Linked DNA regions of Homo sapiens: regions 2 and 3 are each linked to region 1. The links come from fine-mapping of genetic effects on plasma protein levels. A gene starts in region 1. Each other region holds a variant in brackets. All regions are shown on one strand. Distances are between the middles of the regions.

What was found. PIP is the posterior inclusion probability: the model's chance that the variant is causal. The UK Biobank Pharma Proteomics Project read protein levels with antibody pairs (Olink). The fine-mapping took linkage between variants from a reference panel, not from the people measured, so its PIPs are less certain.
Region 2: its variant is fine-mapped to the plasma level of the TNFRSF21 protein (UK Biobank, PIP above 0.99).
Region 3: its variant is fine-mapped to the plasma level of the TNFRSF21 protein (UK Biobank, PIP above 0.99). The variant lies in the coding sequence of TNFRSF21. If it changes the protein, the assay may bind it differently, which can mimic a change of level.

Annotation. Positions count from the first base shown.
Region 1 is chr6:47,306,569-47,314,753 of GRCh38, reverse strand. TNFRSF21 (TNF receptor superfamily member 21) reads left to right here and starts at 4,849. Exons shown (of 6, transcript NM_014452.5): 1 at 4,849-5,338. The coding sequence starts at 5,243. RefSeq lists enhancers at 4,587-4,881, 4,833-5,012, 5,176-5,898 and a silencer at 5,153-5,382.
Region 2 is chr6:46,653,502-46,661,666 of GRCh38, reverse strand. It overlaps SLC25A27 (solute carrier family 25 member 27), which reads right to left. Exons shown (of 9, transcript NM_004277.5): 2 at 5,633-5,824; 3 at 2,621-2,705. Among named protein-coding and RNA genes, the nearest start is that of SLC25A27, 4.6 kb to the right of the region's middle. The variant G/A (reference allele first, on the strand shown) is at 5,751.
Region 3 is chr6:47,283,200-47,291,384 of GRCh38, reverse strand. It overlaps TNFRSF21 (TNF receptor superfamily member 21), which reads left to right. Exons shown (of 6, transcript NM_014452.5): 2 at 4,790-5,441; 3 at 6,953-7,447. Among named protein-coding and RNA genes, the nearest start is that of TNFRSF21, 23 kb to the left of the region's middle. RefSeq lists an enhancer at 4,951-6,150. The variant G/A (reference allele first, on the strand shown) is at 4,877.

The DNA.
Region 1 (8,185 bases):
CTGAAGTATATCAAAGTAGTTATATTTTGCATTGTGAAGGGCCCGATGGACAACCTGGGACTATTCAACCAATTATAACTTTCTGTACCTATAAATTTATGGGGAAGAGATTTATTACAACAATGGGGAGCACAAATTCTAATTCCAGAACAATTATATAGCCCTCAAAGTCAACATATGATTCATGAAATGGGGTATGTACCCGGAACAGGACTAGAAAAAAAAATTTGCAAGGTTTAAAAAGTTCCCGCCAAAGATTAGGATATCATTTTTGATGGCAGCCATTGTTAAGCCTCCAGAACCTATACCTTTAGAATGGTTAACAGATAAGCCAATTTGGATAGAACAATGGCCGCTAAGTAAAGAGAAACTGGAGGCTTTGGAGAAATTAGTTACTGAACAATTAGAAAATGGGCACATAGCTCCAGCATTTTCTCCTTGGAATTCTCCAGTTTTCGTAATTAAGAAAAAATCAGGTAAATGGAGAATGTTAACTGACTTCAGAGCTATCAATTCAGTTATATAACCTATGGGAGCATTACAGCCAGGATTGCCTTCTCCTGCTATAATTCCAAAAAATTGGGCTTTAATAGTCATAGATTTAAAAGATTGTTTCTTTACTATCCCTTTAGCTGAGCAAGACTGTGAACAGTTTGCATTTACAATTCCTGCAGTAAACAACATGCAGCCTGTTTTCATTGTTTTACAGATGGGTCTAGTAATGGTAAATCTTCTTATTCTGGATCAAAAGGTAAAGTTTTTCAGATGCCCTATACTTCAGTTCAAAAAGCAGAGCTTGTAGCTATAATTGAGGTATTGACTGCTTTTGATATGCCTATTAATGTGATTTCTGATTCTGTTCCTATAATTGGGGCAGAATCAGGTTTACAAAAAAATTGGGGCAGAATCAGGTTTACAAAAAAAATTGGGGCAGAATAGGTTTACAAAAACCTATTTGTAAACAGGATTGGACCCAGTTAGAAAAAATGAACGTACTTGTTTAGGAAGATTGCATTGCAGAACAGGCAGAGGTGCTGCACAACGATTCCTATGGAATCATTATTAATTCGTCCCCTAAGGGGACGTTTAGCTTGAATTGCACCTCTCAGTCTGCATGCCACGGCCACACTATGTTCAGATGATCTGAACAAAACGGTCAGATGGTAGAAATGATAAGAACTACGGCAAAAGTTCCCATTACCTGGAACCATGGTGGTATAGCAGCACCTCAGCCTCAAATGATATAGCCCGCTCTAGGAGCTTAACATAAGGAATTAAAATTAAAAGAACAAATGTTTAAAGCATCGCAGGCACACCTGACCTTAATGCCAGGAACTGGAGTGCTTGAAGGAGTTACAGACAAATTAGCAGCTAGTAACCCATTACAATGGATAAAAACACTTGGAAGCTCTGTGATTTCAATGACGTTTGTGCTTTTAATCTGTGTTGTTTGTCTTTGTATAGTCTGCAGATGTGGAACCTGACTCCTGCGAGAAGTAGCTCACCATGACAAAGCTGCCTTTGCTTTTATCGATTTGCAAATCAGAGAAGGGGGACATGTTGGGAGCAGGCCCCCCAAAATCTGGCCATATACTGGCCTCAGAACTGGCCATAAACAAAATCTCTTTTGCACTGTAACATGTTCATAATGGCCCTAACGCCCAAGCTGGAAGGTTGCAGGTTTACAGGAATGAGGGCAAGGAACACCTGGCCCACCCAGGGCGGAAAACCACTTAAAGGCATTCTTAAGCCACCAACAATAGCTTGAGCGGTCTGTGCCTTAAGGACATGCTCCTGCTGCAGTTAACTAGCCCATCCTATTCCTTTAATTCAGCCCACCCTTCGTTTCCCATAAGGGATGCTTTTAGTTAATCGAATATCTATAGAAACAATGCTAATGACTGGTTTGCTGTTAATAAATATGTGGGTAAATCCCTGTTCGGGGCTCTCAGCTCTGAAAGCTGTGAGACCCCTGATTTCCCACTTCACACCTCTATATTTCTGTGTGTGTGTCTTTAATTCCTCTAGCGCCACTGGGTTAGGGTCTCCCCAACGGAGCTGGCATTTTCCTGCCAACTTTCTGTCATTCCCTCATAGATCGGCTCAGGATGTTTGTCATGCAGCAGTCATTTCTCAAAATGTGGACAATTGTTATTTTCATTATAAAGAACATGAAATTTTACTAGACCTTCTGAAAGTGTGCAGGATAAGTTAAAAAAATAATTAAGACAAGATGGTAAATCTGGTGATTTCTTTTTTTTTTTTTTTTTTTTTTTTTGAGACGGAGTCTCGCTCTGTCGCCCAGGTCGGACTGCGGACTGCAGTGGCGCAATCTCTGGTGATTTCTTCAGTATCCAGATGTATATATCAGATTTTTAACAAGAAAGATAAAATAGAAAAAAATGAAAGGTTAGGAAAGCATTAATTGGAATGTACTAAGGACGAGGAAAGAATTAGCAATGATTTTTGAGGTTGGAAAACTAGAAAAATTGTACAACATTGGCAGAAAGAGAGAAAGTCCAAAGGTAGGATGGAGGGTGGAGATAGAGTAATTTTTATGGCAAAGATGACATTGGATTAACTCATTTAGGCCTTCCTTTAAAATTTAGCTATAATTATGATTTATCAACACATATCTCCTCTTTCCTTGGAACTTTGGGAGAAACTTCCTTATGTATCATTGAATTTTTATCCTTTCCCAGAAAACAGACATGTCTAAGTTACCACATTGAAAATGTGGCAATGAATTATTTAATGGTTGCAGCATTGTTACTTCAAAATGGAAGGCATGTATACATTTCAATTCAAAGTAATAAAATTTCACACTGCATCTAGATTCAAATTATCTATAATCTATCACTCTATAGAGGGACATGTATTTAAATGTTAGTAGTAAACAGAATTGAGTAAATTTTTTCATCTCTCAAAATGTATATTAAATTTCAACTTGATATGATCAATGGAACACCAGGAATTCATGAAGTTTCAAAGTGGTCCAAGCACAAATAAACAATTTTCTTTTAGTTTTAGGAAGACAAATAGTTGAGAAGAACTTCTTATACCTGCATAGTAACCCAGACACTAAACTCTAAAGTTGCCCAACTCTTTAGAGCAAATCAATCATATATTACCACGAAAAATGTGAGTTTGGATGCAAGGAGTAAAATGGACTAAATAAAAACGTATTTGAAGCTCCTCCTCCTCTTTAATACCTATGTAACTTCTTAAAAAAAAACAACCCAACCTTATAATAGTATTGGCCAGTCATTTGAATTTTTGAAGAAAAAATTGATACAGTTATGCATGAAAACACAGCATCTATCCCTCACTCTTTCAACTTCTGAAAATAGCTAGAGAGTGGCAAGTCCAACCATCATCCTTTCCCCAAAACTCCATAATTAATGGTAATATTTTCTAGAACTCCTTTGAATTTCACTAGAGGTTATATATTGTAGCTTTTTTCCCACTCTAACATTTATAGACAATACTGACAAATGTTTGAAATAATAGATTGGAATTAACCCTCATATTAATTTTAGCTTCTACCAAAGTGTGCATAGAGCAAAGAATCAAAGGACAACATGTTAACTAATAAAGCAAATAATTGGTACCTATGACTTAGCAAGTTACCTTTATTAGCACTGGGTGTTGGATCTTGAAACTGATAGTTTAAAAAGTGTGATTCTTTTGAAATGGGACCAAAGGAGCCTAGGATAAGCCCAGCACCATAGGGCTCCCAATTGAGGGGTGTGGACTGGATGGCTGAAGAGGTAATATCAATACAGTGTGCCATGTGCTGTCAGTACCTAGATGATGGATAACACGATACCAGAAATGGTGGCCACAGTCAGGAGACTCGGCCTTCCCCCAGGTGAAACAAAGAAAAGGATAACAGCTGCTCTCTTACATTCAGAAGTGTGTGAGATACCAACATCCACGAGAATATTCCAGTTCTCCTTCTGAAGCAGAATACTACCTATTCTACCACCCACATCCTGACAAGGCCTTTGGAAATCAACTCAAAAATTTTTAGCATTATTTTTTGGGGGAAGGGTGATTAAAAAAAATCTCAGGGATAATCCGATTCAAAACTCTTGATTTTTAAATTAGGAAAATGCATCTTTTGATACATTTCAAGGAGTTCAAAAGTCCCTCCAAGACCATCCATGGACCCAACACCAATGACTCTGGGTTTTAAATCCTTTTAGTTTGGATTTCCTTAATTGCATTCATAAGCCCATATTAAAATTAAAATATAAAAAATTAAAATCTTTGCCCCATATTAAAATCACCCTGAAAACTTAAAAAACAAACAAACAACAACAACAACAAACCTCAATGCCCAGACCAGATCCTGTCCTGTTCCAATTAAATCAGAGTCTCTAGAGGTGGGACCCAAGAATCAATATATATGTTTTGAACTCTCCAGGTGATTCCACAGGGCAGCAAAGTTTGAGAAGCAACACACAGGTCTCCTTTTTCGTCACGCAGTTGATCTAAGTGCTCTGTGGTCTATTCACCATCGCTCTCTGATTTAATCATCGTGTCCGAAACAATGGAAAGGCGTATGTAGCTGAAATAATTTAGTTGGAATTATCTCGGAAAAAATAAGTAAAGTTAGATCAGGAGTGAGATGCTTTCTCAGCGCTTTCCCTGGGTCAACAGGCGCGTGCAATTTCCTCAGCGAACGCCAAGGGGCACCCTCTCCCTCCCCGCTCTACCTGGAACGCCTTCGCCTTTCCAACCGCACAAAGAGCCCGGCCTCCTCCCGGGTGACATCACAAAGGGCCGGTCCCCCGCCCCTTCGGCGCCACCACGTGTGTCCCTGCGCCCGGTGGCCACCGACTCAGTCCCTCGCCGACCAGTCTGGGCAGCGGAGGAGGGTGGTTGGCAGTGGCTGGAAGCTTCGCTATGGGAAGTCGTTCCTTTGCTCTCTCGCGCCCAGTCCTCCTCCCTGGTTCTCCTCAGCCGCTGTCGGAGGAGAGCACCCGGAGACGCGGGCTGCAGTCGCGGCGGCTTCTCCCCGCCTGGGCGGCCGCGCCGCTGGGCAGGTGCTGAGCGCCCCTAGAGCCTCCCTTGCCGCCTCCCTCCTCTGCCCGGCCGCAGCAGTGCACATGGGGTGTTGGAGGTAGATGGGCTCCCGGCCCGGGAGGCGGCGGTGGATGCGGCGCTGGGCAGAAGCAGCCGCCGATTCCAGCTGCCCCGCGCGCCCCGGGCGCCCCTGCGAGTCCCCGGTTCAGCCATGGGGACCTCTCCGAGCAGCAGCACCGCCCTCGCCTCCTGCAGCCGCATCGCCCGCCGAGCCACAGCCACGATGATCGCGGGCTCCCTTCTCCTGGTGAGCGCTTGCGTGGACCGGGGGTGGCGGCGGCGCCGGAGCAGAAGGAACCGCTCTCCGGGAGCCGGGCGGGTCACCGGGCCGGGGCTTAGGGAGGCGCGGGGCCCGGCCGACTGGGTTACGGGCACTGAGGGGTTTCCAAGGGAAGGCAACACACCAGAGGGCCTCGACTAGGTTATTTGGGGGAATCTCAGGGCTCAGCCGGGGCTGGGGAATGAAGACGAATTGTTTTCCTTGCAGTCTGGCTTTGCTGGAGGAGACGCTAGAGGTAGCCGCCCAGCTTCTGCGCATTTGAGGGCTTTTCCCCCTACTCGGCCTACCTCGCGCTCCCCACGCCCGCAGCCACAGCCCCCCACCCATCGGCCACTGCCCCTCTGCGTGGTGTGGGGCCTCGCCGCGGTGTGGGGCTCCCACGGCCGGCCGAGGCCGGCGCTTTGTTGCAGCTGCAATGTCATGTCGGGATGCTACCGCAGTGGAAGACAGTGGTACCGGTGCGCGCCGGACACCGGAGACCTCCGGGTGCTGTCGCGCGGTGCATTCCCGAGCAGGGCGCAAGCCGCCCCCTCCTCAATCCCTTTACCCTCTCTCTTCCCTCTTGGCTCGGGTGGGGTCTCAGGTTCTGTATGCCGAAATATCACCCTTAGACCCACTCTCCGGCGCCTCCAAAGCGCCGGCTTCCAGCCAGCCAGCGCGCCGGCACTGGAATGGGGGGAGGGGGAAGGAGATGTGTGTGAAGGAAGATGAATTTTCTACAGTCTTTCCGATCCCTCGTTTACCTGTGGCTAGGCAGGTGACCCTGCAGGGTGGTGCAGTCTCCCTCATCGTCTAAGCTGCATCCACATCTCGGGTCAATCATCTTGACCAAAAACTTACCCTCAACTTCCCCCAAATTCCCTCCCTTTATTTCCAAATATTGGGGTGAAGGGGCAAGTTAGGTGGAAGAAAATTTGAGATCAAACCCTTGAGCTTCCCTTGCCTATCTTTTATCACTGCAGGAGGGATGGAAATTCTTAGCTAAAAACCGAACAAAAAAACCCCCAAGAAACAAGAGCTTGTTTTCACGACAGGGCTGTGTAAGGGAAAAGCAGGCTTGCTGTCTCCTTCCCCAAAAGGGCTTAACGCCTGGCCAGCCAAGAACTGCTTAGATCTCAGGACATTGCAGTTGCTATGGCCTGGGAATTCATCCTACAGACACTCTGGTTCCTTGTGTGTGTGTTTTAAGAGGAAGAGAGAGACTAAATAAAAGTTTGTTACTGTTAGCATTTATAATGAGGCAAGTCCCAGTCTCCCTTCAGAAACTCTTTTCTGCCCACTTATTAATGGCATGGCCAAGGTTTATATCTTTGAAACAAGTGAAACAAGTGTGGTGGATGGTAAGCAGTAGTCGGGGAGTCTCTTGGGACAATGAACCTGGATTGACAGTCTTGGTGTGGAGAGAAACACATCTAGGTCCATGGGAACACTGATCCTAGTTCAGTGGAGTGAGAACTATCATCATTTCCTTTTTCACAGCTTTAGATCCACTACTATCCACTACTATGTTTCAGGTGCTTCTAACACATCTGATTATTATATGCCTCACAGAGTCCATTCCCAGATTAAATCTTAAGTCATTGTGCAATACTCCATTTATTTTACCTTTTAGCATGAGGTAGGTAATTAAACAAAGGTCTTGATGTAATCAAATGGTAGGTTGCCTTAACTAACTGAGAAAGGGCCCAGCTCCTTTTCTTGAATCATCAGGCTAGGCACCCTGGCTTATGCCTGTAATCCCAGCGTTTTGGGCGGCCAGGGTGGGAGGATTGCTTGAGTCCAGGAGTTCGAGATTTGCCTGGGCAACATAGTGAGACCCCATCTCTACAAGAAATTAGGTGGGTGTGGCGGTGGTGTGCGCCTGTATGCCCAGCAACTCAGGAGGCTGAGGTGGGAGGATGGCTTGAGCCCAGGATGTTGAGGCTGCAGTGAGCTGTGACCATGCCACGGCACTCCAGCTTGAGTGACAGAGTGAGACCCTGTCTCCAAAACCAAAATAAAAAATAAGTCATCAAACTCAACCTACCCTAAAAATTGTGCACTGGATTTGCAACTAAAGACCTGACAATTTAAGTTTGGCTACTTTGAAAAAGATAAAATTTATAATGGGGCTTAGGAGCAGTCTCAAGTTGATAACCAATACAGGATTCCTTATTCTTCTGCTAGCTATGCTAAAAAGACTTCAGGTAAATTCATGAAATGGCATGAGGTTCAGCCCTTCATCCTGAAGGGTGACTGGAGGGTGTGCCAGGAATCAGTAGAGACTATGTTATAATCCCCATCCAGGGTGGGGAGGAAATGCCTTTTGTCTTTCACATTCTTATTCTGCATGCCCAAGTCCACAGCACAGGCTTTGTTAATGTATAAAATGATGATCTCATGATACTGTTCCAAGAAGTATTTATCCCATTGGGATCCTTGGCCATGTGAACATAACGGACATCAGGTACTGGAGCCTGGGTACACGTGGCAGGGTACTCAGAACACTACTGGGGGAGGTGGGCAAGTTAGTGGCCTGCCCACGTATTACAGTTAGATTAAAAAGTAATAATCCCAGTAAAATGTTCTATTTATTATGTCTTTTAATGCTCTTCTTTCAAATATCTCCCTTTTTGTGTGATAATATTTATTGTCATCATTTTTGTGTTATGACTTTTTGTTTGTCATGACCGGCTAACTGCATGAAAAATAGCTTACTATAAGCTTATAAAAATACAAATATATAGGTACACAATATGATATAATATATACACATGTATATAGCAATTGTATATGTATAGAGAGAGCAATTGCTACATGCCAGGTGCTTTGTAT
Region 2 (8,165 bases), 650 kb after region 1:
AGTGGGACAGCCAAGATGTGAATCCAGACAGCCTGCATGCAGAGCCCACAGTCTTAAACACTAAGTTATGACTGACAGTTTGTGCATACACAAGCATATCTGTATAAATGTTCCTTTGTAAAAGCGCTAACATAGAATGTCAAGTTGTACAGTGTTCTGCACTGTTTTCTTAACAGCATATCTTAAAGGCTATCCCTATCAGGTCATATAGAGCAGCCTCATTCTTTTTAATAGTTTGACAGTATTTCATTTTATGGATATGCCATAATTTATTTAACGAACATAACTTTAAGAAATTTGAACATTTACATAACATTTGCTAGAGCCTGTCAAATTGCTTTCCAGAAAACCTTTATCAATTTGCACTTCCACCAACAACCTGTGAAAATGCCTGTTTCTCCACACAATGATGAGCACATACATTATCATATTTTTTCTCTTTGCATCTCTCATACCTGTTTCTCCACACAATGATGAGCACATACATTATCATATTTTTTCTCTTTGCATCTCTCATAACCACTCTTTTCTCTGTATTTTTTACATAATTCTAATTGTTTATTCATCGACTCTGTTACTGTAAGCTGAATGACGGCAGGACTGTTTCTTTTTCATTACTATAGCCTCAGTATTAAGTATAAGACTGGCATACCATACCATAATTACCCAATAAATACCTACTGACTGAATGAATTGTTCTGATTGGGTCAAAAGGACATTAAACCTATCCACCCTAAAAGTTCTGGTATAATATTTCCTTTGCACTTTTTACTTAAACCTTTCCCTTCTGGAAGAAATTCCAAAACGCAAGGACTATAAATCTATTCCATAATTGACTCTGGGAAAGCAATTAGTATAGCTTAGTACATTACAATTTTTCAAAAACAAGATAAAGAAATGTTGCCTGAAAGGTGAAACTCTACATATTGCCCCTTTTTATAGCTGTGACTTAGATTTTTTTAACCCTAAGAAAGATTTTATAGGCATCTTTCCATGTTAGTCATATGAAACCCACCTCATGCTTTCAATAGCTGTGTTATGCCATAAATATATCATAACCTACTTAACTGCTTCCAAATCAATAGTTTAAATTAAAAAAATAATTTTCTATCATCAACACTGCTACAGTCAATATCTTTGTGTCTGTCTTAATGCATATGTAGAAGCATTTATAAATGATTATAATCACAAAGGGGTTACACGTTCAAAAATGTTAACAAGTAATTTATGCTCCAAAAAGACTATAGTAACTTATATTTCCACTAACAGCTTAAAGTTAGTTTTAATTAATTTCCCTGATTATTGGTGAGTTTGAACATTTTTATGTTTAATGAACATGTATATTTCTTTTGTGAACTGCCTATTGGTATCCTTTCCTTATTTTTCTATTGTGCTTTCTCTCTCTCTCTCTATACACACACACACACACACACACAGACACAGAGGTGAAGAACAGTTTGGTATGTGCAGGCAGTGGAATCTTTCAGCTCATTAGTGCACCACTCTTTCCAAGAGAATCAATGAATTGCTTAGTTCTCTGAAGACACAGGCCAGATATTGCAGATCTTCTAAGTCACATTCCAAAATCTCCACTTTATTTTGTGGGTGATTAGAAGCCAGTGACAAGTTTTAAGGACACCAATAATGTGTTAATATCTGTGTTTCAAATAAATCACTCTGGATACCGGGTACACATTTGAGGATGGAGGAGGAGACGAGTTAGATGGCAGTGGTCCAGCTGAGAGGTTATATAATTTTATATATATAATTATATATATATATGCAATTTTTTATTTTTATTTTATATTTTTTGAGACAGAGCCTTGCTCTGTCACCCAGGCTGGAATGCAACAGTGCAATCTCGGCTCACTGCAACCTCCACCTCCTGGGTTCAAGCGATTCTCCTGCCTCAGCCTCCTGTGTAGCTTGGATTACAGTCCCCCACCACCAAACCCAGCTAATTTTTTGTATTTTTAGTAGAGACAGCGTTTTGCCATGTTGGCCAGGCTGGTCTCGAACTCCTGACCTCAGGTAATCTGCCCACCTTGGCCTTCCAAAATGCTGGGATTACAGGCGTGAGCCACCCCGCCCAGCGTGTGTTTTCTATATTTCTATTTATTTATAGGAGCTCTATGTATATTATTTTTAGTAACCGATTTTTTCAGTTTCCGTTAAATAATATACACTTACATTCATCATCTCACCGTGTCCTATAAAAACACTTAATGGTTTGTATTACTTCTATAGCTGTGAAAACTGAAGATAAAAAAGGTGAAGCAGTTTGTCCAGGTTATACAGTAGCAGAGCAGGAATTTGAGCCCATCCCTGTCTGACTCTAAAGCCGAGAGTTCTTAATAAAAAGAGGAATAAAAAGGTACTCTATAAGAATTCTTTCAACAGTAAAATACTAAATATCTCTATATATGCAATTTATATATGTATATACATGTATGTCTGTATACATCTGCAGTAAATGCTCAATTATCTGGACTTATATTGTAATTATTATTTTAAGTCCATAACTTAAGGCAATTTGGGTACAAATGTACAATTTTACATAAACCTAATAAACATTAAGGCATTTGGGGCAACAGCATATTATTTTCCAAACAAAACTTACCAAAGGGGATAATGCTCATCTTCACTTTTGCCAAACACAACCTCTCGGAGATGTTCATATGTGACCATTCGACCTCCAGAATACACTGGGTAAAAAAGATCATTAAAAAGGTAACTTTGGCTATATGTATCTATATGCTTATGTATGTATAAAATAAGAGGACATTCCGACATGGCCTAGTCAATCTCTCTAGCTGTGTCTTTGTCTCATGGGGCCGGTGCTTCTAACACGTGGGCTTCTTGATGCTTCTCCAAATGGGGCATGCTCTTTTCAGACTCTGCCCTTCCCACACACTGTCTGATCTTTCTAGAATGAATTCTCCCTTCTCTGCTTTACTAACATCTCCTTGTCTTTCAGGACTCAACTCAAAAACATGTTTTTCAGAAACTGCTCTCTGACCTTTTTATCATATTGATTAGAAATTAACTCTTCTTGCTTATCTTTCCATCAGACCATGAGCTTCTCCAGGCAGGCTCTATGTGTTTGTTTTTACTTACCCCAGATGCCCTAGTACATACCTTGGTACGCAGCAGGCATTTTCATTAAATAAAGATACATAATTTCATTGGAGAATTTATTGTAATTTTTCAGCTAAGCATCAAACGTATGAAATGAATCTTAGCTGTAAAACAACACAATGAACAACAAACTACAAATGAAAAGAAACTCAAAATAATAATGGGATGCAAAGCAGAAAATATTTTTAAAAGGATGGAAAACAAAATAATTAAAATCAACCATGGTATTTGTATAGAGAGCTTTTCTTGATGTTTTAGAAAGTTGATGAAATATTTTAAGATACTCAAAAATATACAACTTGGAAAACCAGTAACAGTCTCTGCACACAGTTCTAGATAGTTTTTGATGATACACGCTAACTTACTCATATGGAGAATTGAATCTTTAAAAATATTAAGCCAGCAAATTTTAGAAATTAGAACTGAGCACTCTTCTGATCAAGGATCCTTTCATGCTTCAGGAAACATTATGAGGAGAAAAATGCCAAACCTATCCTACCTCCTTTGAAGCCAACTTTATATTCTCCTGTACACAAGCTATAAAATCAAGTCCTCCTCTTGTGAGTGCCACTGTGGAAGCAGAGCAGAAAAATGTTCTAACTGGCATAGTTGCAACCATCTTCCTTTAAGGGTGACTAAGGCCCACATAGCTAGTTAGGTAGCCTTGGAACTGGGGCAAAAATCACCTGTGTTGCATTTACACTACAGCCAGTGTTGGATTAGGCAGTGAACTCTGTCCTCTTTCAGAGTAGCCTGGTCTTAGATTATGAGACAGGGACTCATGAGATTTGGCACTGTAATAAATATATGTTAATTTTCAAAAAATATGAAAAATTTAAATTCTGTGTTTAAAGTTCTTAAGTGAAGAAAAATGATAATCAGCTATTCACTTTTTCTTTCTTAAACCTATACAAATTTTTATTAAGAAAATTTTCAAACACTGAAAAGTAAATAATATGTAACTCCCTCTATCTCTACCATTGAGATTTATTAACTGCTAACATTTTTGCCATATTTCCTTAATTTTCTAACTTTTTAAATTTATTTTGTATTTTTTATTTTTTTGAGACAGAGTTTCGCTCTTGTCACCCAGGTTGGAGTGCAATGGCATGATCTCGGCTCACTGCAACCTCTGCCTCCTGGGTTCAAGCGATTTTCCTGCCTTAGCCTCTTGAGTAGCTGGGATTACAGGAATGCGCCACTAGGCCCGGCTAATTTTTGTATTTTTAGTAGAGACAGGGTTTCACCATGTTGGCCAGGCTAGTCTCGAACTCCTGACCTTAGGTGATCCACCCACCTGTGCCTCCCAAAGTGCTGGATTATAGGTGTGAGCCACAGCACCCGGCCCAATTTAATATTTTTAGAGATGGGGTCTTGTTTTGTTACCCAGGCTGGAGAGCAGTGGCAGGATCAAAGCTCACTGCCACCTTGAATTCCTGGATTCAAGCTGTTTTCACACCTCAGCCTCCCAAGTAGTGGGGACTACAGTCATGTGCCACCAGGCCTGGCTAATTTTCTTACTCTTTGTAGAGACAGGGTCTTGCCATCTTGCTCAGGCTGGTCTCGAACTCCTGGGCTCAAGCAATTATCCCGCCTCGGCTTTCCAAACTGCTGGGATTATAGGCATAAGCCACTGTATCTGGCTTGCTTCATTGTTTTTTGCTTAATTAAATATTTTAAAGTGGTTTACAGATTTCATGACAGTTCATCCCTAAATACGTGAGTATGCGTTTCTAAAAATTTAGGACAGTAACTTCTTAATAATAATCAGTAGTTAATTTTTTTCTTCTTAAGAGACTATATGTGTTCTGGCTGGGCACGGCGGCTCACGCCTGTAATCCTAGCACTTTGGGAGGCCAAGTCAGGTGGATCACCTGAGGTCAGGAGTTTGGGACCAACCTGATCAATATGGTGAAACCCCGTCTCTACTAAAAATACAAAAATTTCACAAGGTCAAGAGTTTGAGACTAGTCTGATCAACATGGTGAAACCCCATCTCTACTAAAAATACAAAAATTAGCCAGGTTTGGTAGCATGTGCCTGTAATCCTAGCTACTCAGGAGGCTGAGGCAGGAGAATCGCTTGAACTCGGGAGACAAAGGTTGCAGTGAGCCAGGGTCACACCACTGTGCTCCAGCCTGGGCAACAGAGCGAGACTCTCTAAAAAAAAAAAAAAAAAAATTAGCTGGGTGTGGTGGCGTGCACCTGTAGTCCCAGCTACTCAGGAGGCTGAGTCAGGAGAATCGCTTGAACCTGGGAGGCAGAGGTTGCAGTGAGCTGAGATGGCGCCACTGCACTACAGCCTGGGCGACAGAGTGTGACTCCATCTCAAAAAAAAAACCTAAATAATAATAAAAAAAGACTATGTGCTGTATGTGTTCAGTTATTGTATCAGTAAGATAAAAAAACTAACTTGTTTTTGGACAAACAGAAAAGCACAGGAGACAAACACAGAACTCATAACAAACTTACCAGCTAGAATCAAGATAAATACCTACGTGTCTGTAAATGGCGGGTGTCACTCCTTGCCAAAGCTTTAGAAAGCCTTCCTCTTCAATGATCCCTAGAGCTGTGCGCACCATTCCCCTATAGGGGGCAGATTCTCTTGCACC[G/A]TCTCCCAACCGAGCAAGAGCTGCTTCTCCTTGCATTTGGAGTCGAGTTTTTGTGAGATCCAGGGGAAAGGTTGCTAACAAAAACACAAATGCAGGGAAAAACCCACAACATTCAGAGAAACAAACAAAAATCTAAAATCATAGGAGTAATATTTTCCCAAGACTGGTTGTTCTCAAATTTTAGAATATATCAGAATCAGCTAGGGAGATTTTAAAAATTAGAAATTTCCTAGCCCCGTGCCCATGGATTCTAATTCAGTAGGTTGAAGAGGGTTTAGAAACTTGATTCTCACACAGTCCCAAATTTAAGAATCACTACGCAAGAGCATCCTGGATCACTAGCAAAAAAAAAAAAAAAAAAAAAAAAAAAAAAAAAAAAAACAAACATTAACAATAAAAATTAAAATGACAAGCCTTGGGTTCTTTCTATTCAGAAATTTAACTTTAATATCTGTTAGTCATTAATTTTTGCTTTTCAATGGGAAATAATTTAAAGTACCATATTGTGTGCTATCCTCTTGACTGCAGCCATGATTATTTGAGATCTAATGTAACATTAGAATACTGCACTATATATTCTTATGTACTATAACAAATGCTAGATGAAGCTGAACTCTATAATTTCGTGGGTGATGTTCACATGCAGATGAATGACTGACATAATGTTTGAGATACAGAAGATGTAATGGAGTTTATAATGTTGTCTTTTATATGCAAGGGTCATAAGCTCAATATCCTTTCAATTAAAGCATATATGGAATTATTTTTCCAGCACTAAATTATATGCATCGCCTACTCATGGCCTCCTTACAAGTACTAACTGTATTTTGGAAAAATTTTTTGGTTTTAAGTTTTAAATTAGATACAGACCTTTTACCTTAATACAGTTAAGCTAAACGGCCTACATAAGGAAGATAGAGCTCATAACCTTATACAGAAAACGTCCTGAATAATTAAAATAATAACATTCAGACAAGTTCATGAACATTACTTACATTATATAAGACTTTTCAATGACCACCACCTGACACAAAACCTTAGTATACCTTTTCCAAGAGAAAACAATGTGGGGAAGGGAAGTGAATATTAAATCTTACCACTGGTTTTTGGAAAAGTTAGTATCTTGCTGACAGTTTCCCTAGAACAGAAGTAGCTTGCATAGACTTCAAGCAATATTTTATTGACATATGAAACCTGAAAAATCTTAATAGATTTCTCCATATTACACAGATTATGTCTTTCAAAATAAGTTTTGTTTTCTCGCTGGTTTGTTAAATGATGCTTCAGGTTCCTGAAGTGGTTTGTACTTAAAACCATCCCACATTTTGATTCCCATCCATTCTCCACACACAATTCTCTCCATGAATTTTTAACGAGGAATAGTCCTGTATAAAAGCCATTGAGTCAGAGGGGGACACATCAATTAAAAATAAAACCTGGAAATATCATTCAGCAATCTGCTTTTAGATCTTTTTAAGCTGATGAATTTTATTTCAGTAAAAACAATGAAAAGTAAAAATTCTCCATCATTTTCGAAAGGAGAGACATTAAAAAATAGAGGGGCTAAAAGGCAAAAATGGAAGAGCACGAAACAACTGATCATGGCTGGCTATGCTAGAATTAAAAAATAAACTCTTAAAATAGGACCAACTAACATTTACAAATGATAACGCATCAGAACTGTTCTTTTTATTTTTTTGTAACAGGCAAGAAAATGTAAGGGTAATCTTAAAATACACAGTTAAGGCTTCACAGGAAACACATGAGTATACTACTCACAAAATCCTTGGAATAAACGCTACTTGCTCATTCAAGGGCATCATCATTCCACTCTAGATGGCCTCTTAAAGTTTTTTCTTACTCATGTAGGCAGATGTAACTGCTCTTCTATGCTTTTATGACACCTAATAATATCTTCATTATAACAAGTAGCACATTATAATTGTCTTTCTCTGTCTCCCCAGCAGCCTGTAAGAAGGTCAGAACTGGGTCTTTTCAAATATATATCCACAGTCCCTGGTATTGTAGGAATTATAAAAATGTCGCAACTAATGGGTGTCCTGCCTTGGGTTTAGCAATCATATATTATTGACTTCTCAGAATCCTGCAAGGTAAACAGTATAGATGAATTACACTCAAAGAGGTCAAGTAGTCGATGCTCTGTGAGTGGCAGGTTAATAACGGAAGTCCCACAAGGTAGGTCCACAACTTGGACCCACAAGATAATGACAGTGTGGCTGTGTAAGACTATAAACCACAGAGATGATCTCAGTAAGGATGGAAAACAGATTACGTTTTTAAAAAGGTCATCCTCATGAAAAGGAAAATGATTCCTACAGAGGAATGACAGCTCGCGAAGCTTCTTAAAGTACAACATTCAAGCACCACAGCACATGCCTAAGGGAAGCATTAGAA
Region 3 (8,185 bases), 23 kb after region 1:
CCCTTTCACCCTCTGCTCTGAAGCAGACAGCTTTTTGATTCACAGGTGCAATTATATGCCTTCTCCCCCAACCTATCATGTAAACATTTAATGACTTCTCATTGCATTTTGAATTAAGATCAGCACATGGAGACTCTTCAGATGTAACTGTGGCCACTCTGTTGCATCTTGAGATAGAGCCACAAGCTTTTTAGTTCCTGTGCTGAGCTTCCTTCTGCTTCACACTTTTGATCTGGTGTTCCCTCTGCCTAACCCTCTTTCACTGCTTCTTGCCTGGAGTTAATTTCTGCCTCTCCATCCTTAAGAGTGGTGACAAAATGTTTCTCTAACTTCCCTGAGCTAGGAAGCACCTGTTCAATTCCCTCTCATAGGATTCTGTATTTCTCTTTCTCAGCAGTGATTTCAATTCTAATTGAGTAATTACTGGTGTATTCTTTTTTTGTTCATCCCAGCCTAGAATGTAAACTTCATAAGGGCTGGAATAGAGTTCTCAAGATTCTATCCTCAGCCCATGGCATGCTGTCTTGCACACACCTATTAGGTCTTCAATAATTATTTGTCCAGTGAATTCATAGTGTCTAGTTTTTGCTAAATCTCATTTCTAGTGTTCAGCCTGGGCCCGACTGTGGAGGGATCATTGTTTGTTGGCTCTGCTTGCGGGAGCTGGAATTGTCTCTTGTTGTATGAGGTAATTTAAAGGTCCTTTTTTAGAGACACATTGTCTAAAGTGGGTTACCCAGTATGAAACAGTTTAAACAGGGCCGAGTTTTGCTTTAATTAGAAACTTGATCTGTTATTCCAAATGAACAAAGAGCTCTAAAATCCACTTACAGTCTGAGAAAGAGTGTTGGGGCTGTGGGGTTTGGAGGTGGGTTTTATGTATAGCTAGGAAAACCTTTTTTGGTTTTACTTTAGATTTAGAAGTGCATATTTCGGGGGAAGTATAGAAAGCTGTAGGAAGCCTACCCCAACTCCACACCCAAATCCACACATACTTGCTATTCATGACCTCCTGTGCTCATTCTGCAGAGCCACCCTTGTGAGTGTGTGTGTGGGTGTGTCTGACTGCCCATCCTCCCACACAGGTAGGGAGGCTGACTTAGATCACACAGCACATCAGAGTGATATTCATCGCCGACCACCGCTCCCTGCCCAGATCTTGGGTTCAGTTCTCTTCTTTCTTAATTGAAGTGTAACAACCTGCCACTTGGGTTACTAATACAGCTTTCAAACTTTCAGAACACTGTAGCTGTCTAAAACTGCTTTTGCATGTAGACATGCCACGAAGTACAGAGCAGAGCCACTTTTGCAACCTCTTGGGTTGGGTGTTTAGTAGGGAGATAGGGTCTAATCCTGTCGTTGATACTCTTTTGTTTCTTTTTCTTTTTTTTGAGATGGAGTCTCACTCTGTCGCCCAGGGTGGAGTAAAGTGGCGCAATCTCGGCTCACTGCAACCTCCGCCTCCCAGGCTCAAGCAATTCTCCCACCTCTGCCTCCCAAGTAGCTGGGATTACAGGCATGCTCCACCACATCTGGCTAATTTTTGTATTTTTAGTAGAGACGGGATTTCACCATGTTGACCAAGCTGGTCTTGAACTCCTGACCTCAAATGACCTGCCCACCTTGGCCTTCCAAAGTTCTGGGATTACAGGCATGAGCCACCGTGCCCGGCTGGTATTCTTGACAAATGTAACTTGGGTTCCACAGGATGGGTCCTTTTATCCAGTGCATCCGCTGTGCTCAGAAAAAGGTGTCTGAGGCTTATTTTCAAATAGAAGGAACAAGAAAATGAAAGGTAAAGTCAGAAGGGATAAGGGAAGACATTACAGAATTTATCATCAAGCAGGAGGTTTTTTCCAGGTTCTAAGATGAGGTTAAGTTTCTTAACAAAAGAATCAACAACTGTCCTTTTTTTGTTGGGGGAGGGTCTCGACAGAAAAAATGAATATACCCTCATAAGCTGAAAATTTGTTTTCTGTATTGTTATTTAACTAGATAGGCAGCTCTGGGACAGGGGAAGGGACTTCAGGGAAATACTTTTGATTCAAATAGTTAAATTTTGGGGTAGGAGAGAATTGAACCTTGAATTAAGTGTCAAGGTGCTAAAAAGACAGAAACTCTGATCACTGTGAAAAAAATTCTTGATTTATTCTCTTAGTCACTGGTATAGCAGCCAATTTAGAAGGAATTTGCCCTGCTGAGTAGCTGGTAGTTTGAGGCAGCCATTATTTCCTTGACACATAAACTTTGTGCATTTCATAAAGGATAGTGAAAACTGTTGGAACTTTTCAATATTCATTAATGCAGAAAAACTTTCTCTTAATATTCTTATTCTCCCCCAGTCTCTTCTCAGAAGGACCTCAGGATTTAGTCCCATGAATATAATTTCCTTTCCCCTAAGTGCCTGTTGATTCCCTCTTGCTGGGTCTAGCTTTGTGCTTCCTCTCCTGGGTGGCTGCAGGCCCATGCTTTCGTAGCTATGGTCTTCAAAGGCTGAGCAAACAGGGTGTGAATCTGAAAGCATCAACTCTGTTGTTTAAAGCACATTACAAAAATGCCAAGGGCCCGCCTCTGTTTTGACAAATAAATAAAAGTTTAGCTTCATGTAGGCAAAGCGTCTGAAAAAATCAGGCCATGACTGTCAGGTAATGCCAAGCAGGCAATCTGGTGCATGGAACTGGCAGCTTGAATGCATGCCTTCCTGGTTCCCAGTTGCCTTGTCCTAGCATCATGAAATGGCAGCTTAACATTGGGGTTGGGGAAAGGAAGAGAACTATTCAGCAAGTTATTTTCTTTTTCTTTTTTTTTTTTATGTTTGTTTCTACCGCTTTATTTTTATTTATTTATTTACTTAGAGACACTAAAAAGGGTATACAGATTTTATGTGTACAGCTCAACGATCTGTGACAAAGCAAACACACTCCAGTAACCAGCATCCAGATCAAGTTACGGAGCGTTGCCAACACCCTAGAACTCACCCCTCATGCCCTCCTCTAATCACTGTACCTTCTCTCCACTCTCCAAAGCAGTGTAACACAGAGATTAGCTCTGTTTTCAAACAAGCAGTTGGAATGATACAATGTGTACATTTTGTGCCTGACTTCCTTTACTCAACATTACGTTTGTAAGATTTATCCATGTTACTATGTGGAGCTGTATTAGTTCATTTTCATTGTTGTATAATGCATTATATGACCAAATGACAATTATTTATCCTTTCTGCCAACAAACGTGTGCTGTTTCCACCTTGGGAATGTTTTAAATAGTTTTGCTATAAGCGTTGTTGCATACCTTCTGGTGCACATATATACACATTTCCATTAGGCATGTGTGTATATACTAGGAGTAGGATTTCTGGGTCATAGCGTATACATTTTCAACTTCTGTAAAGAGTACCAACCAGCTTTCAAAGTGTGTGTTGCAATTTATGCCTTTATCAGAAATGTATGAGAATTCCAGTTGCTTCTCATACTCACCAAGACTTAATTTTATCAGATAGTCTTTTTAACTTTAGCCATTCTGGAGTATATAGTACTATTTCAATATGGTTTTAATATGCATTTCCTTAATTAATAATGAAGTTTTACGTTTTTGTCCTTTATTGGCTATTTGAATATTCACTTTTATAAAATGCCTGCTCAAGTTTTTCACCCATTTTTATCTTGTGTTGATTTTCTAGGAGTCCTTTACATATTCTGTCCACAACCCCTTTGTCAGTTATAAGAGTAGCATACATGACTTGAGCCACAAAATATGTGTATAAATTTGAAATGTAAATTTCAACTGATTTCTTACAGGTTTAGTTACCATTTCAGTTTTATAGTATAGAACTAAGCTAAACAAAGTATTTTACAAATCTGTGATAAATAATTCTTAAATAGAAAGAGTACATTTTTTATTAAAATACATCTTCTAAAGACAAGAACAGGGCAAGTTTTTTTTTTAATTAGCTCCCTTATCCTTAAATGAATAAAATACCCAATGTTAAAAAGTCAGCAAGTTATTTTCCTGTTGCATTTGGATTTTGACTAGTATACAATTTTTCTTTTCTTTTTTTTTTTTTTTTTTTTTTTTTTTGAGAAAGAGTTTCACTCTTGTCACCCAGGCTGGAGTGCAATGGTTTGATCTTGGCTCATTGCAACCTCCACCTCCTGGGTTCAAGCGATTATCATGCCTCAGTCTCCTGAGTAGCTGGGATTACAGGCATGCACCACCAAGCCTAGTTAATTTCTTATTTTTCGTAGAGATGGGGTTTTACCATGTCAGCCAGGCTGGTCTCGAACACCTGACCTCAGGTGATCTGCGTGCCTTAGCCTCTAAAAATGCAGGTGTGCAAAAATTACAGATGTGATGTAAGGCAAATTTTGCAAATTGCAAATTTTGCAAATGCAAAAATTACAGGTGTGAGCCAGTGCGCCCAGCCATATATAACATTTTAAATCTCAGCTACAAAGTGTTTTCACATACATATTCTCAACTGATTTTTATAATCAATTTGAGATGCATTGTCAGTTTCATTTTACAAATGGAAAAAAAGGAAGCTGAGGCAAAGGTCAGGCAGTGAAACCAAAGCATCACAGCCAGTAGATCAAGCTGTAGGGTGGGATCCAAGTCTTCGTTTCTCTCGTTCTACTGTGTTGCAGCATGCTGTCAAGAGGATGCAGTCCTGGTCGGATCTTTAACAGGAATGATGATGGTGGTGCTGGAATTGTTGGCCCTTTTTCTGCTCTGCTCCTATGTAACATCTTCTTGGTTTTTGTTCCTTTCCCTCCCCTTCTGTTTCTTTCAGCTTGGATTCCTTAGCACCACCACAGCTCAGCCAGAACAGAAGGCCTCGAATCTCATTGGCACATACCGCCATGTTGACCGTGCCACC[G/A]GCCAGGTGCTAACCTGTGACAAGTGTCCAGCAGGAACCTATGTCTCTGAGCATTGTACCAACACAAGCCTGCGCGTCTGCAGCAGTTGCCCTGTGGGGACCTTTACCAGGCATGAGAATGGCATAGAGAAATGCCATGACTGTAGTCAGCCATGCCCATGGCCAATGATTGAGAAATTACCTTGTGCTGCCTTGACTGACCGAGAATGCACTTGCCCACCTGGCATGTTCCAGTCTAACGCTACCTGTGCCCCCCATACGGTGTGTCCTGTGGGTTGGGGTGTGCGGAAGAAAGGGACAGAGACTGAGGATGTGCGGTGTAAGCAGTGTGCTCGGGGTACCTTCTCAGATGTGCCTTCTAGTGTGATGAAATGCAAAGCATACACAGACTGTCTGAGTCAGAACCTGGTGGTGATCAAGCCGGGGACCAAGGAGACAGACAACGTCTGTGGCACACTCCCGTCCTTCTCCAGCTCCACCTCACCTTCCCCTGGCACAGCCATCTTTCCACGCCCTGAGCACATGGAAACCCATGAAGTCCCTTCCTCCACTTATGTTCCCAAAGGTAACTTAACCTCATGAATTATTTATTTGAGGAAGGCTTTGAGCCCAGTGGAGGTACCAAGAGTGGGCTTATACCAAAGATGTTTTCTCCATTTCGTGTATTCCAAAGTCACCCCTTGGAGAGAGGCCTTCATATGGTGGCTAATTAAATCTGGCTTTTTTGGACTTAATAGAAACATGTAGACTCAGAATTTTTCTGTTAGGGGAGATCAGATATCTAAAAACTAGGTCACATCAAGCTATAAAATATGAACCAAGAGAAACAAGGACAGCGTGTGACCTTATGTAAGTTACTTAACCTCTTCAGGCCTCAGTTTCAAACTTGTCAAACAAATGAATAATTTAGATGTTTAAGGTTCCTTCCAGATCAAAAGTTTTCCAACATGGAGTCAGTCCCAGGTAGACATAGCCAGGAGCAGAGAAGAGGGAGAAAGGAAGAAAATACCATTACATCCGGAAGCGAGAGATGAATTTTGAATCCAGGTGGGGCAAAGAATGGGTAGGAAAGTTAGAAGCTCAGGAAATAAGCAAATTTGTATCAGATTGAAGGTAACTAGCACTCATGTCTGGAAAATAATAACTTTATTTTTTCCAAATGATTTTAACTTTACTCCTTATATCAATTATTCAAGTTTTCCATCAGAACCTCAAGCAGAATATAAAATTTATCCTTTATTTTCAAATCCTTTTTGATTTAATGTAATTTTCATGAGATGATGACCAACTTGAGTTGTTCCTCCTAGTGTCCTCTCATGCATGATTACATTTAGCCTTCATGATAAGCCTGTGAAGACAGCCATCTTACAATTGCCAGTTGAAATGAAGAAACAGCCTCCAAGAGCTCAGATGGCCACTCTAGCTTTGCTTAGGCCAAGTCCTGTCTCTTGGGACTCAAAATTCCCATCTCTCATACTTCTTAATGAAAATTACTTATGGAGGCTTCTCTGAGAGAAGTCTGCTAAGCTGCCAGCCCAAATCTTGTTTAATCTTTTGATAACAGATGCTCTTATTTGCTGACCTGTCCTACCAAGTCTTTCACCAGTCAAATTTGCATTTGAATTCTTTTTTTTATCTTAGTCATATTCTCAGTTTTACCACTGCATCATAAAATAGTCAAAAGGTGGGAGAAGGAGGATGGACAAAATAATTAAATTTGAACTGGTTCTCTGAAAACTCAAAATAAGAATTGATTAGATCTCTGCACATATATGTGCCTGCTCAATATGTGAAGTACAGGAGAAGCTGCTGTCAAGCTCAGCTGTTGGATCCTTAAGGTTGCCCTTGGTTTTGGTGTAAGAATGTGAGTTTAGTGGTTCAGTTCCATTTTTGCCTTCCACATGAAGGTGCCATTAGGGTCTTTATGAAAATGTGCAACACAATTTATTCTTAAGCCCCAAGGGTCATCTTATCTTTGATTATCTGGCCTAGCTTGGAGATGACCAGGGAAAGGAGGGAATGTATAGATCCCCAAATATGGAAAAGCTCTTCCCCCCTCCTTACTCTTTTTTCTAGGCATGAACTCAACAGAATCCAACTCTTCTGCCTCTGTTAGACCAAAGGTACTGAGTAGCATCCAGGAAGGGACAGTCCCTGACAACACAAGCTCAGCAAGGGGGAAGGAAGACGTGAACAAGACCCTCCCAAACCTTCAGGTAGTCAACCACCAGCAAGGCCCCCACCACAGACACATCCTGAAGCTGCTGCCGTCCATGGAGGCCACTGGGGGCGAGAAGTCCAGCACGCCCATCAAGGGCCCCAAGAGGGGACATCCTAGACAGAACCTACACAAGCATTTTGACATCAATGAGCATTTGCCCTGGATGATTGTGCTTTTCCTGCTGCTGGTGCTTGTGGTGATTGTGGTGTGCAGTATCCGGAAAAGCTCGAGGACTCTGAAAAAGGGGCCCCGGCAGGATCCCAGTGCCATTGTGGAAAAGGCAGGGCTGAAGAAATCCATGACTCCAACCCAGAACCGGGAGAAATGGATCTACTACTGCAATGGCCATGGTGAGCCTTCTCTCTTCTCTCCTTGCTCACAGATCTCTCTACCACTTTTTCCCTAGTCCCTGTTTTCTGAAGGAATGGGAATGCGTAGTTTGTGGAATCTCCTTTGTAGACCAAACACTACTTGATCTAGTCGTGTTATAGAAAAAGAGATTGACCGTCTCATTAGAAGTAATGCATTCAGAGAGAATAATCTCTCTTCCTCCTTTTCCCCTGGTACCTTTAAAACAGAAGAATGTTGTGGAATCAGAGACCTGATTGACTCCTAGGGACTTTGTTTGACCTTGTCATTTAACAAATGAGAAATTTGAGTTTAGAGAGGTTTGGCAACATTGATCCAAACAAGAGGCTAGTTGTTTTTGAGGACAGATGGGACGAGACTCCTGACTGTTGGAGCACTTGCTTTTGCTATACGATTAGGCTGTGAAGCAAATGAAGGGGACAAAACCCAACTTGTCATAAGTTTGCCATTTTCAGTCAGAACCTTGCTTTTAGATTCCTAACAATTTCGTCACATATATATTTTCCCCACTTAAATTTTAGGATCCCATGTCTATCAGGAGGGTAGGATGGTCTTTTGGATTGTAGACCCCAGAAGCATAATATGTCGGTCATCATCTGAGCCTCAGCATTACATCTCTTTCCTGGTAGTCAGCATGTGTTGAATACAGGCTGGAATATTTTGGCCTTTCCTCTTTTGAGGGCAAAAAATAGCTTATAGAACTTGTCCCAGAGCTAAGT